Linked DNA regions of Homo sapiens: region 1 is linked to region 2. A link means that fine-mapping ties the variant in region 2 to the expression of a gene that starts in the linked region. Tissue or cell type: aorta. Region 2 holds a variant in brackets; the other region holds the start of a gene. All regions are shown on one strand. Distances are from middle to middle.

Region 1 (6,503 bases), 140 kb before region 2:
ATTAAGTCCACATATTTATGGCCAACTAATTTCCAACAAAGGTGCCAAGAATAAACATTGGGGAAAAGACATTCTCTTCAATAAATGATGCCGAGAAAACTGGAAATCCCTATGCATAAGAATGAAACTAGACACCTATCACTCACACAGTTGATCACAAAAATCAACTCAAAAGACTTTCTTTTATATAGACTTTCTTTCTCAAAAGAAGTCATACAAATGGCTAACAAGTTTATTTAAAAAATGCCCAGCATCATCAATCACCAGAGAAATGCAGATCAAAACCACAATGAGACATCATCTTACCACAGTTAGAATGACTATTATCAAAAAGACAAAAAATAACAAAAGGTGGCCAGGATGCATAGAAGAGGGAAATTTTATACACTCTTGATGGGAACATAAATATGTATAGTCATTATAGAAAATAGTCTGGAAGTTTCTCAAAAAACTAAAAATATAACTACCATATGATCCAGCAATCTCATTACTGGGTATTTATCCAGTAGCAGGAAAGGAAATCAGTAAATCAAAGTGACATCTGCACCCCTATATTTATTATAGCACTATTTACAAGAGGTTGATATGGAATCAACCTAAGTGTCTATCAACAGATGAATGGATAAAGAAAATATGGTATGTATATTCAATAAAATACTATTTAGCCATAAAAAATGAAATTTTGTCATTTACAGCAACATGGATGGCACTAGAGATCATTATGTTAAGTGAAATAAGGCAGGCACAGAAAGACAAATATCACATGTTCTTGATATATGGGAGTTTAAAAAGTTGATCTCATGGAAGTAGAAAGGAGAATGATAGTTCCCAGAGGCTGGAAACACAGGGGCAGATGAAGAGAAGTTGGTTATATGTATACAAACATATACTTAGATAGAAGGACTAAGTTCTAGTGTTCAATAGCACAGTAGGCTGACTATAGCTATATATTGTATATTTTAAAACAGCTAGAAGAGAATATTTGAAATGTTTCCAACACAAAGAAATGATAACTGTTCAAGGTGATGAATATCCTGTGTACCTTTATTTGATCATCACACATGGTATGCATATATCAAAATATCACATATATCCCACAAATATGTTCAAATATTATGCATTAATAAAAATGATTTAAAAAAATTGAAGGGAGCCAAAAAGAAGTCATGTTTTAATGCCAGGATAAGAAAGGCAATAATAGAAAAAACAGCATTCTAAAACTGACATAGTTTTCTGATATTGAAGTCTGGATTTTAGGGAAGGTACACAGTTCACTGCAGATTAGGACATTTTGAGGCTTTATGTTGGTAGGAGCAGGATATTAGTGATAGTACTTACGTTGTATCAACAGTTGTGTACAACCTGAGATGGAGCAGATGGTTTGAGTTTTGAGAATATTAAGCTTGTGGCAGATAAATGGAATTTTTGCTAAAATATTAAATATTGGTTAATAAAATATTTTCAACCAATCCTTCTTTAAATAATTAATCCCATCGAAACAATCATTACTGGTGCTTCATGCACTTCAGAGAAAATTCATTGTGGAACCACGATGTTAACTTTTCAATTTAATTCACTTCCATGCTGCTGGAGTCCCATGAGCACTAGATTGAATGCCAGGGGTGGTGGGTCAAGGATTCAGGCAAGTTTGGGCCAATTTGGAGGGTGGAAATAGGGAACCACATATTATTCTATTTTCACAAAGGCCCAATGAATTCTGTAGGGAAGAAGTCATGGCAAAATAAAGGGCTGCAGTTTTAAGCAGCAGAGATATGGGCGGCCATCATGAGTCCCAGCAGGGACTTCTAATGGGTTTGGTGTAGAGGACAGCCACTTCCAGTAAGCTGGAACCTAAGGGATAAGGAATAAAATGGTAAACACTGGAAGAACAAGTTCTCAGAATACGAGTGAAAAATGTGTGTGAGGAGGGGTTCCCAAAACTATAAGAGGACTTTGAGGGGTTTTATTCCAATAGACGCTGTGGGAATATACTTTTTGGCATCCATTATTGTTACTCTGGTCTTAGCCTGTTGTCACCTGGAAAATGCAGATTACTTTTATATCTCTGGAAAGAATAGTGGCTTGGTCATCAGATGGCACACTCAAAAGGCACACATAAGTAGGTTTCTTGTCTCTGTCTTTAAAACAATAAGCACTTAAAGTATCATTTGGAGAAAACAGCAGTTACCAGGAAATCACTTAGCTGAGATAAAAAAGAAAAGAATCCTCGAATAGCATTTAATCTTCAAAATAAGAATTTTCCATTCTTGGGTCAGACCGATAGATGACATGGCATTTAGACATCCAATTCATACCTTTGCTTGCAACTGAGCCTCAGACACACATATATGATGGAAATGTTCTTTGGCATTACACTGCTTTCTTAGTTTGCATCGCTAGTCACCTTTGTATCATTTGCATCTGATTTGGAAAATATTTTAGAACAACCCAATAACAACTTCGAGATTAAAAAATAAAATTCTACACACTTTACAGTTCCTTGCTATTACATGAATGTGTAAATTGAATTCCCTCTCAGGAGAAAAAAAACAAAACAAGGGCTGGCTTCCCAAAAATGTTTTCACTGGCTTTAGGGAACTAAAACACCAGTGTCTGGGTGAGTAATACTTCCTGTAAAATAAAGATAGATCAACACATAATTAAGTCCTGGCTCACATATAATTGTTGTTTTGGAAACAGTTTTGAGGATAAATATGGTTATGCTAATGAAACTGCCCATGATTTCCACTAATGATCCAGTTTATTAATTAGGTCAGGACATTTTTCCACCTTGTGCTATCCATTTTGGAATGCTGAAAAGGGTTAAAAAAAAAAACTTCTAAGAGAACACTGTAGGCGAAGAAAAAGAGAGAAATTTTAAATTAGTTATCAACTCTTCTAAGGATTCCAGTTGGAGGAGTAGATCGAAAGTGCTTTTTCGATTATTTATGGGTTTCGAAGATTCTTCCTACTCCACTAGGCAGAAAAACAGAGTTGTAATATACAGCATTTAGAATTCATAATCCTTAGCATTATTTCTCTGAACTCGACATCCTAAATAGCCAGCGTTTACTAATTCCAGAGCTGAGTGTAGTTTTGTAGGAAGTTCTACTGAATGCGGAGACCAAAGGGGAGCCTGCCTGCTCTGAGGGTTTTGTTGAGGCTGAGTGTGAACTCCGGGCGAGAAAGCGCATCTCAGCTCTTAGATCACACCCACTCAGGGTGTGCGTGTGTGTGTGCGCGGGTGCCTGCGCGCGTGTGTACGTGTGGGGAGGTGTGCGCCAAAGGGGTGGGGTGAGGGGCGGCGAGGAGGGCTGTAGGTGAAGCGCGGGGAGAGGGAGGTCGCCCGCTCCGGCCTCTCCCCCAGGGGCCCTGCGGCTGGCCAGCGCTCCGGCTGCACCTCCTGGTGCGCGCCGCGGCGGCGCCACAGGCCCCTCGACCCTTTGACCACCGCCCTCGGGCCGCGCGTCCGGCAGCCGGGACCGGTGATGGCGCGGGACTGACGGCCGTCTCCTCCCAGACCCCTCTGTCCCGCCTGGGGCTCGCTGGGGCTGCGGCGCCGCCCCGAGCTGCATGTGGGGCGGGCGCGCCCGAGCCCAGAGCGAGCGGCCCTCGGCGCCCCCGAGGCGGTGCCCCGCCGCGCCAGAGTACGAGGAGGAGCGGCGGGCCGGGCCAGGCTCCCCACGCGCCGCAGCCTCGGAGCACGGGCTCCCCGGAGGGGACTTGGGGCGTCCCAGCCCAGGAGGAAGGACCCGGAAGCAGAAGCGGAGCCGCGAGTCGAGCCGAGCCACTGCCCCCGCTGCCCGCGGGCGCCGGGTGGGGGTCCCGGCGGCTGGATGGGCAGCGGCGGCGCGGGCCGCGGGCGGCGATGGGCGAGGAGCAGAGCACGGTGAGCGGCGGCGGCGGGCCCCAGGAGTCGCAGACCCTGGCCAGTGGCACTGCGGGCCACCCTGAGCCCCCGAGGCCTCAGGGGGACAGCGCCCGGGCGCCCCCGCTGCGCGCCGCCTCCGCGGAGCCGAGCGGCGGTGGCTGCGGAAGCGACTGGGGCTGCGCGGACACCAGCGCCCCAGAGCCCGCGAGGAGCCTGGGGCCCCCGGGCTGGAGTAAGAGCCGAGCACCGGCGCAGCCTGCGGGACTGGCACTCACCGGGCCTCTCAATCCCCAGACCTTGCCACTGCAGTTGGAGCTGGAGGAGGAAGAGGAGGAAGCTGGGGATCGAAAAGAGGGAGGGGATGAACAGCAGGAGGCGCCCCCCGGCGAAGAGCTGGAGCCCAGGACCCGCGTGGGGGCCGCCGACGGACTGGTCCTGGACGTGCTGGGTCAGCGGCGCCCGTCCCTCGCCAAGAGACAAGTCTTCTGCTCCGTGTACTGCGTGGAGAGCGACCTGCCCGAGGCCCCCGCCTCGGAGCAGCTCTCGCCGCCCGCGTCGCCACCTGGGGCTCCGCCAGTGTTGAACCCTCCCAGCACCCGCTCTTCCTTCCCCAGCCCCCGACTGTCCCTCCCAACGGATTCCCTCTCCCCCGACGGCGGCAGCATCGAGCTGGAGTTCTACCTGGCGCCCGAGCCGTTCTCCATGCCCAGCCTGTTGGGAGCTCCACCCTACTCTGGCCTGGGCGGTGTAGGGGATCCCTATGTGCCCCTCATGGTGCTGATGTGCCGGGTGTGCCTGGAAGACAAGCCCATCAAGCCCCTGCCTTGCTGCAAGAAGGCCGTGTGCGAGGAGTGCCTCAAAGTCTACCTGAGCGCCCAGGTAACTTCACCCCCTTCTCTTCCCCATTTATCATTCCAAATCACTGGCGAGGAGGTCCTGCTCTCGATCTGATCTCCCTGCTCGCGCGAAGAGGTGACCGACACACTTACTGAGGATCTCTGTTAGTTTCTCACGTCTCAGTTGTTATTTAAGTGTATTATGACCTCACTGGTTTACTTAACTGGAATTTAACTTTGCTGTGAACTTCAGGCTATGGTTGGCATGTGTAGAAGGCACAAGATACAAGTTGTTGCCCTCCTCTTATTTCTTATACAGGATTGCAAGCACAAGCTTGCTCAAAGGAGGAGAGGAAGAGACTGCCTCATCGGCCTGGTATCCCAGAAACTAACAAGCAGTGGGCATAGAATAAATATTTATGGAGCTGGTGGAGAAAAGAATTGGAATAAATATTTCAGACCCATAATACATGAATTTGTAATTTTGCTTCATTTGTATATTCCAGGAAAGAGTGAATGTTTAAAAAAATGTATCCCTTGGCCTTTGCCTACTTTTCAGTTTCCTTTTTCCACAGTAAAGTTGAAGTACTTTTCTTTCACTGAGGTTTTAAGCCAGCACTCTTTAAGAGGGAAGCAAAACAGAAAGAGCAAAACAAAGCAAAGAGAGGCTAAGAGGTTTCTCAGAACAAGCACTGGTGAAACTTTCCTCCTCTGCTTTTATTTGAAAACTTGGTTTTTTTTCTTGGAAAGCTTGAGAGTGCACCAGACCAGCTTTCCTTCACTGACGGTGAATGCGTTCTTCCAGCAGTTTTCAATCTGTGATGTTTCTGCCAGTGTTTTGCACAATCCTGGATGCCCTTTGATCCTGTGTCCAATTGTCCTAGGCCTATTCATCTTTCAAAACCCTGTGTGTTCAGGTGCCAACTCTTCTGTGAAGCGTTGCCTCACCCTCCAAGTCACTGCTTATATACTTTCACAGTATCTTATATTATCTTACATGCACTGAAGTTGTTTCTTTCGTGTCTGCTTGTCTTGTTAGACTGTCTGGACAATGTCTTAGAGTCCCATATGTGGTAGCTTCATGTTGAGTCCCTTGCCCATCATAGTGTTTTTAATAACATTGGCTGGGACAAACTGAACAGGGCTCCGTACCATGTGATTCCTCTATGTTTTTTGGCTAACTCATGCTTGGGTCTAGACTGAAAGTGTGTACAGTCCCTAACTAAAAATGCAAACAAAGACTTAAAACGGTATGTTACATAAACAGTAAGTTGGCTAAAATAGTTGGGATTATTTAAAAGCCTCTGAGAGACTGTTGTTTCTTTCATGCTTTATCTACAGAGATTCTTAAAACAGGAGGAATGTCTGCTGCTGGTTGTGGTAGTTTCTGTATCATCATCCTCAAAACAGATTTCGCTGCCCTGCGATGGGATTCAGACATTTCCAAAATATAAGCCCGCCTCCAGGGAAGTCACTGTGAGAGCAGATGTGTACAAAAGAACAATACAAGGTAGCATGGGATGAGATGTCAATAGAGTAACAATTCCAGATAGCACTTCCTGTTAAATGCTGGATACACATTCCAGAAATTCAAGGGAGGTAGTCATTGTGGCTTGGGGTACTTTACCTAGCAGTTTGATTTCCTTATGGTGGGCCCTTTCCCCAAAGCAGTTTTCTTTTTCTTTATTAAACCTCATAAGTTAGTTTTAGGAAGTTTTAGTAATGGTAGTAGGGAGACAGAGGGACATAGTCAAGTGGTCATTGCAGTGTACAGTACAACCACTAAAAACTCCTCT
Region 2 (8,564 bases):
TCCACTGCATCCTTCACAGTGCTATTAGGGTGATGCTACAAAAACACAATCTGATTTTATCACTTCTGTCTCAGGATGGGGTTTTCTGAGAAGCAGATTCCTAGATGGAAATTTGCATGCAGGAGGCTTATTGCTAAGGTTTACTGCACATCTATGAAGGAGTGAAATAAACAGGATTGGGCAGGGAGAGAAACTAGACTGCAATGAAGTCCCCACACAGGCCTGAGCTCATCAGCCATAACCTATCAGCCTGAAGCTGGGAAGGCTCTGCAGAGAGTTGTCCCAAATTGAAATGAGAGTAAGCCTTAACACTCTGCATAGATCAGTCATTGAATGGGAGCTGCCCTTGGAAGCATGACTTTGGGAGGAGGTGACCCTTTCAGCTGAGAACACTCCAGAGTGGGTTCAGCTTAGAACTGTCAGTCATCAACACTCTCAGGCTGGGCAGTGAACGAATCAGCCCCCGGAGTGGGTGGGTGGGATGAGACAGAGTAGCTTGGGGCAGGAGGAGAGGTGTGGGGAAAGGTGAGAGGTGGAGGTGAAACCTGGATAGCACGTTCCAAGTTAACCTCTCCAGTCCTTGCTCACTGTTGAGACATTGGGATCCCCCCCAACCCCCGACATTAAACAGAACTCTTCCTTCCACCATGCTCTATTAATATAATCACCAACAGATTGGTTATTTATTTTTGCTTATATTATGCATGAGGCCCTCTAGCAAGAACGTGAATTCCATGAGGTCACGGATCATGTTCTATTCATTTTTGGGTCCCCTCCACCGTCTATGGTAACTGGCAGGTACATCATAGGCATTGAAACGTTTGAGGAACAAATTACAAAACTATAAAACAAAAAAGTTTTATAAGAGACGTGCCCAAGACGCCTCAACTTCAGAATGGTGAAGCCAGGGATTCCAACTGGGTCTCCCTTCTCCAGAGTTGTAAGTGCACTAGGTTAGAATCAGCGGAAGAGTGGGAAATGGGAAGAACACGAAGCTGGAAATGGGAAACCTTAGTTCCAGCCTTGGTTTTCATCCTCCAACTGGCATGCTAACTTGCCCTCTCTGGGCTTCCTAGGTCTCTTATTCCTTATATTGGAGGTGTTGTTATGGATAATTTCAAAACAAATCTTTATCTAGCGCCTACTATGCGTTCACATAGTCTGTTCACGTGTATGTAATCCTTACAACCCCTCTGTGGTGTTATTAGTATCCTCGTTTTATAAACAATGTGGGAAAGAAAACAACAAAGCTAAGCCCAGCTAAACTAAAAAATAAAAAATAAAAAATACAGTTCAATGGTTTGTTTGAGGTCACATAGCAAAGGCTCAACTCAAACTCAGGTCTCCTGCTTGCCAGTCTGCGGTTCCTGCCATGGGGAAATTCTGTTATCTTTGAAGAAAATAATAAGTAAGGGAAGAGAGAGATGCCCTTTCACAACTGCAAAATTCTCTCCTCCCCAGTTTCCAGCTCCCATCATCAACAAAGAAAACCACGAAAACAAAAACAAATCCGGATTGCCTTTGTCCACAGTATAGAGGGCGGGGGCGGGGGCGGGGGCGAGGGCGAAGGCGAGGGCGTCGGCGGGGCTGCAGCCTCCACGCAGAGACCACTGATGGCTCCGCGCCGCTCAGTTGATCCCTTCCCACTGCACGGAGCGGGAGACTAAAGGCCCACTGCCCATGGCTGCGAAAACCTTCCTTCGGGAACGCGGAGCTAGTGCACGGGGGCATGTTCTTCCCCCGCAGCCCTGGCAAGCAGAGGCCGGCGGCCTGTGGCGCGGGGCAGTTGTGCTGGCTGCCGGGCGGGGCTGCTCTGGGTCTGGGTGCACGGAGAGGAGCGCGGAGTGAAGCGCACGGTGCACACTGCGGGGCGCTGCTTGTCACCTCCCTGCCCCTCCCTCTGCCCTCCCCCGCTGTCCGGAGCACAGTCCCGGGAGGGCGGATGTCCCCTGGGAAGATGCGCGAGGAGAGCGACTGGGAGGCAGCTAGCAGCACCTGCGTGTGGGCAACACGACCCGAGGCTGTCTCCATTGCCTGCGTGCTGAAAGCATAAAAGCTTTTTTTTTTCTTTTTTTGAGGAAGTAAATGTGTAAATTAAATTACTTTGGTGGGGGTTAGAAAACAGTTTTCCTCAGTGTCATGGTGACATCTTCCATCTGCCAGTTCACTTTTCATAAACCTGCTGATACATTTTCTACATCTCATTAAAAAGGTAACCCAAAAGAAAAGTAACGGGGGGAGAAGGAGATGAAAGGGAGAGAGAAAGGAAAGACAAAACGAAGAGAAAGTTAAAAAAAATAGACTAGGAAAGAGGGCCCACCAGGAACCAGGAGGAGCCCTGGGGATGGGGTCGGGACGAAAGCTGGCAAGAATTTCGGCTGAGTTCCTTTAACAAGTAGAAACGTGCGGGGTTGTGTGCGATTTTCCTGGAAAATCCTCACAACCCTATGAGATAAACATTATTCCCATTTCAGAGATGAGGAAAGTGAAGTCAGGACAGAGTTGCATCATCAATCTGATTTGAATACCAAGGGCAAGTTTTTTCCCACTACATCAGGGTATCCTGATCCGTTTTAAACTATTAGAATCACCGTTGTTGCATTATTTATTAGCCTTGACAGAGACTGAATAACCTCCCCCATCACAGAGTCTGCAAGGACAGAGGTGTGATCTAAACCTGGGCCTGGGAGCCCTGAGCTATCAAGCTAGACTGCTTCTCAGAGCCCTTCTCTTGTTAACCAGGGACTCTGAGGCAGGGTACCCAAACTGTCCTTTGACATCTGCAACTCTAAAAGAGTAATTGGAAATTGGGGAATAATAACACAACAGATAGAAGTTTTTGTTCCCATCAAATGAGACAGTGTATATGAAAGTACATAGCATAATACCAGTTATTTTCTTTCTGACATTCAATTCATTGAAAGTTTATTCAACATTACTTATTCAGTTTATTAGTAGTAGTAGTAGTAGTAAGCATGTTTAGGGCCCCTCCTGTGTTATTAGACATACCCTGTATGTGGATCTTGGTGAAGGCTGGGCTCCAATCCTGGTCTTGTGGAGAGTACTAGGCAAAGATTTAGGACAAATGGATTCCTATCTTGAATTCTTACATTAATTTGCTCTGTGATATTGGCATAGCCACATACCTTCCCAGACTTTGGTCTAAAATCAAGGAGTGCAAGGGTAGTCTCTAAGATCTCTTTCAGCAATGAAATGTGGGTCCATGTAACCTATATTTAAAGTTAGTTCCAACTGTTCAGTTCTATTATTTCTGTAATCCAGACAGGCCCTGTCAAGCAGCTGTGCATCTGCATACTCCCATAGGCTGGGTCTCTACCTCCTCCTCCTCCTCCTCCTCCTCCTCCTCCTCCTCCTCCTAACTCCTACTTCTCCATCGTCCTCAGCCCCAGCATTTTCTCCTGCTAGATGCCATCCTGCCTGTACCATCCAGGGTGCATCACCATGGCCCCCTCTGTTAAGGACTCTTTGTAAATCACCACTGAGCAAGGCACTTGTATTAGTTTTCTAGGGTAGAAGTAGCAAAATACCACAAACTGGGTGGGTTACAACAACAAACTTAATTCTCTCATAGAGAGGCCTGAAGTCTGAAATCAAAGTGTCAGCAGCACTGTTTCCTTCTGGAGGCTCTGAAGGAGAATCTGTTTTTTGTCTCTCTCCTCGCTTCTGGTGGTTGCCAGCAATCCTTGGCATTCTTTGACTTGCTGTATCTTCACTTCACTTCAGTCATTGGATATAGGACCCAACCTTATCCAGTGTCATCTTTGGGGCAGAAATGTGTTCTCTCTAAATTCATATGTTGAAGTCCTAATCCCCACAGCCTCAGGCTGTGACTGTATTTGGAGATAGAATCTTGACACAGGGAACTAAGTAAGGTAGAATGAGGTCATACGGGTGGGCCCTAACCCAATATGACTGGCATCCTCATAAGAGGAGATTGGGACACAGGCATACACAGAGGAAAGTTCATGCTGAAGACATAAAGAAAAGATGGCCAACTGCAAGCCAAGGAGAGAGGCCTCAGAGGAAATCAACCCTGTTTACACCTTGATCTTAGACTTCTAGCCTCCAGAACTGTGAGAAAATAACTTTCTATTGTTTAAGTCCCTCCCACTCCAGGTCTGTGGTACCTTGTTATGACAGCCCTAACAAAGGAATACAGACCTTCACTTAAATACTACAATTACATCCACAAACACCCTATTTCAAATAAAGTCACATTCTGAGGTTCCAAGAGGACATTAACTTTTGGGAAGACACCATTCAACCTATTACAGCACTTTTCACAGTTTCCTTCAGGTCTTTGTGTTCCTTCAAGGCAGGGACAATTATCCCCAACAGGGCACAAGTCCTGGCCCTTAATATGTGCTCTACAAAGGGAGAAGGAAGAAAGGAAGTAAAAAGTAAAAGAAAAGAAAGAGAGTAATAACAGAAAAGAGAGAGGAAGGAAAAGGGAAAAAAAAGGAAGGAAAGCTGCATGCTTTCCTAGTTTCCTCGTTTCAATTACATCCTTCAAAACAAAATACTGTTCTTCTTGAGCAAAAGATTTCTTAAAGCGTCTTTGAATTTCTGTGTGTATGCAATTTACTTTGAAACATGCAAAGGAAAGAAATAAGGGAAACGTGATAATATCCTGTTGCCTCATTGCTGGCCCTGAAAAACACTTCCAAGGGGTTGCCCAATTAAATATAATACACTCAGTTAAATTTTAATTTCAGATAGACAAGCAGTAATTTTTAGTATAAGTATGTCCTAAATGTGATATATATAAGTGTGTGTGTACATATATGTGTGTGTGTATGTGTGTGTATATATATATACACACATATATATATATACACATGTACACTAGACATGATAGAAAGAACATAGACATTGGGCCCATACAAATTTAGGCTCCAGTTTTTACTACCTTTTAGCTCAGGGACCTGGGGCAAGTTACTTAATCTCTTTGTATGTCAGATTCTTCATCTATAAAATTATAATAGAC[C/T]TATGGGAAAGGGTTGTTGGGACTTTAAAATGTCTGGTATGTGCTGCTTCCGTAACTAGAACAGTGTCTAACACATAGTAATCAATGACTCAACAAATATTTTTGAAGGAATGAAAGAACACATTCCCTTCTTCCCTATATGGACTTCCCTGGAGGATTGGGACAGCCAACCCAACAATAGCAGGGGCCCTAGGACAGGCCACAGCACAGTCCAGGGAGCACCCCAGCCTTCCATGGTAGAAAACCCACTCCACATCCACTGTTCCTCGGAATAATCTGGTTTTAGGATGCAGGGGACATACAACCAATTTGATACAGGCAGAGTTTTCCTTCTAGAAAATGTGTGTGTTTTTATTACAGAACAAAGGCGACAACATCTTACACTAAAATTCAAAAGTCTGTAAACCTTAGAGAACCTATTTCCATATGTAATGCATTGAATTTAAAGGCACACTCCTATTTGTGAAGGTGATTCTAACTAATTTAAATGGACCTAAATAGTTTTTAAATAGCAATATAAGCAGATGCTATCTTATTAGAAAATCATTTGAGCAGCACATTTATTTCCTAGAGCTGGAATCAAATCGTTCTATCTCCTTCTACAGTATGCATTTTTATGTAATCAATTGGTAATAGTGAAAAATATCTTAAAAGTGCATTGTTTCTTGACAGAAGGCTATTTCTTTTCAGAAATAAAAATCATTGTGAAAGAAGATATTTATTCTTAATGCTACAACTGAAACTAGGGGTTTTGTTATTGACTTGCTTCCTAATCAAGAAACTTCCATCATATAAATAAGGTGGTCTGGGTAGTGAAATGAGCATTGATTCAGGAGTCGAAAAACCTGGTTTCTGTGCCTCCTCCTGGGTGCTGCAGCCTCGGACCAGGTGCTCAACCCTGGAGCCAAATTTCCTTCCCTTGACTATGAGGGGAACCAGCTCTCTCATATACTTATACCATATTATATAACCAATAATATGCAATAAAATCAAACTACAGCAATTATAATCCTCTTTTACAATTTTATAAAGTTAAATTTTGCTTTAACAACTATAAAATGGGAATAAGTGTACTTTGGATACCGTTCGTGTAGGAAGCCCAAAGTAGTATTCAATGAATGGAAACTCCCTTCCCCCTTCCCTCAAGCAAATCACTCTTAACCCAGAAAATGTTATTGACAACTGCTGGGTTATAATTGTGATTTTTTTCCCCCCCGCCCCCAATTAATATGCTTCCCATACTGGCCATTAATTCAACATTGAATGAACACATATTAGCTTGCCAACTTTGAATGTTGTTTTGCTCAGTTAGACATGATTTCATACCTTAAGACTTTTTAAGGCTTATATTTTTTAGCCTATCTACTATTTAAACTGGGTACAGGAAGTGCCAGTTTAAGGAGGACAGCCCCAAGAAATGGTCCAGGCATTTCATGAGGGAGATTGGATGATTTTCCCCTCAACCAGCGGCACAGAGGCCCTTTCAATGCCTAGAAATAGATCTCCTATTGAGCCTCTGTTTATCTCCTCTGACCATAAAAAGCAGCTGGCTCTGCAGGAAAGACTGGTGGCTGCAATTAACTCCAGGAGGCCAGAAGCCGAAATCCTGTGCAACACGAATAAAGGCTTCTCAAAGAACTTGTGGAGTCATGTTGCTAGCTCATTGCTAGAACCATTCAGTCTTCTGAGGAAGAAATCTGTGAGCTAAACACCAAACACATCACTGTAAAATTTCCTGTAACCACCAGCGGCACTCCAAATCATTCCATTATTCTCTGAGTTGCTTCACAGTGACTGGGTATTAAATCTGCTGTGTGGCTAAATGCTGATGGCATTTTGTTAAATGAAAAGCATTTTAAAGAGGATTGGTTGATCCAATTGTTCTCATATTCTATTACTTTGCATTCAAACTTAACTCAGTATTAGACTAATAGTAACTATGAAAATAAAAAGAAAGCAGAATCTGATTTTTTTAAGTCCACTGGAGGCAATAAGAAGTTTCTATTGGAACACTTCACATGTTGTTAAACAATTACCAGATTATTAGAAAACACTTTCAAATACCTCTTTGATCTTTGCTAAGAGCCCTGATGAACATTTTTCTTACTGCTTATATTCCCCACAGATAAAATACAAAGACCTGGAAAATAGCAATAATCTAATTATTAGGCATATGTCCAGGAACAGAAGTGAGAAGTAGTAAAGGCAATCAAATGTTCATCTGAAACCTATCCCAGATGAACAGTCCAACTTAACTTGGTGCTGTTATTCTTTTTTTTTTTTGAGATGGAATTTCACTCTTGTTGCCCGGGCTGGAGTGCAATGGCACGATCTCCCCTCACTGCAACCTCTGCCTCCCAGTTTCAAGCGATTCTCCTGCCTCAGCCTCCCAAGTAGCTGGGATTACAGGCATGTGCCACCATGCCCAGCTAATTTTGTATTTTTAGTAGAGACAGGGTTTTTCCATTTTGGTCAGGCTGGTCTTGAACTACCAACCTCAGGTGATCTGCCTGCCTCAGCCTCCCAAAGTGCTGGGATTACAGGCGTGAGCCACCGCGCCCGGCTGGTGCTGTTATTCTTAAACCAAAAAAAAAAAAAAGACTCCAAATCTTCAACCCAAAAATTTCTTTAAGGCTGAACAAATGTGTTTAAAGCTATAGGTAACCATAAGGTAACCAGAAATCTGAGGAAAGGTGTTGACTGATTACACTTGCTAGCAACTGATTGCCTCTATATGGCTGAAGTAAAAGGATGGAACTAGGAGGTATCAATACAGGGTGGTTGGGATAAGTATAACAATAAAGGTAAATATGGCTTTTTTTTTTTTTTTTTTTGAGACAGGGTCTCCCCCTGTAGCCCAGACTGGAGTCCAGTGATGCAATCATAGCTCACTGCAGCCTTGAATTCCTGGACCCAAGTAATCCTCTCTCCTCAGCCTCTCACGTAGCTGAGACTATAGGCATGCACCACCAACCCCAACTAATTTTTTTAGGTTTTGTAAAGACAGAGTCTTGCTATGTTGCTCAGAGTGGTCTCAAACTCGTGGTCTCCAGTGATTCTCCAGCTCCAGCCTCCCAAAGTGCTGGAATTACAGGTGTAAGCCACTATGCCTGGACCATAAGACAATTTTGTAGACATTTTAGGCAAAATAATTACATTAGCCTCCAATACACACACACACATACACACATATACACACACACATACACACACACACGCGTGCACACACACCCCAGACATAAGTCGTGTGTATGTGTATGTTCTAGAGCTTGCTTCTGTCGGTTTGTGAGAGTCGACTATGAGAGTCTCTTCTAGACTATGTTCAGTAACATCAAGTTGGCAGTTTGAAATTGGCAAAGATGAGAGTACACTTCTAAAACTGGCCAACTGTGCAAACCAGAGGGTTGCCTTTTGTTGTTGTTGTTTGTTTGTTAGTTTTGAGACAGAGTCTCTCTCTGTCACCCAGGCTGGAGTGCAGTGCTGTGATCATGGCTCACTGCAACCTCCGCCTCCTGGGTTCAAGCGATTCTTATAGCTCAGCCACCAGAGTGGCTGG

What was found. PIP is the estimated chance that this variant, and not a neighbour inherited with it, causes the effect.
Region 1: it holds the start of RNF217, and the variant in region 2 is fine-mapped to the expression of RNF217 in aorta (GTEx, PIP above 0.99). The same link has a PIP of 0.9 or more in lung.

What each region holds. Positions count from the first base shown.
Region 1 is chr6:124,958,677-124,965,179 of GRCh38, forward strand. It overlaps RNF217 (ring finger protein 217), which reads left to right and starts at 3,761. Exons shown (of 6, transcript NM_001286398.3): 1 at 3,761-4,750. The coding sequence starts at 3,869. It overlaps RNF217-AS1 (RNF217 antisense RNA 1), which reads right to left and starts at 4,351. Exons shown (of 7, transcript NR_026876.1): 1 at 4,147-4,351.
Region 2 is chr6:125,097,978-125,106,541 of GRCh38, forward strand. No RefSeq gene overlaps it. Among named protein-coding and RNA genes, the nearest start is that of TPD52L1, 52 kb to the right of the region's middle. RefSeq lists a silencer at 7,429-7,662. The variant C/T (reference allele first, on the strand shown) is at 5,009.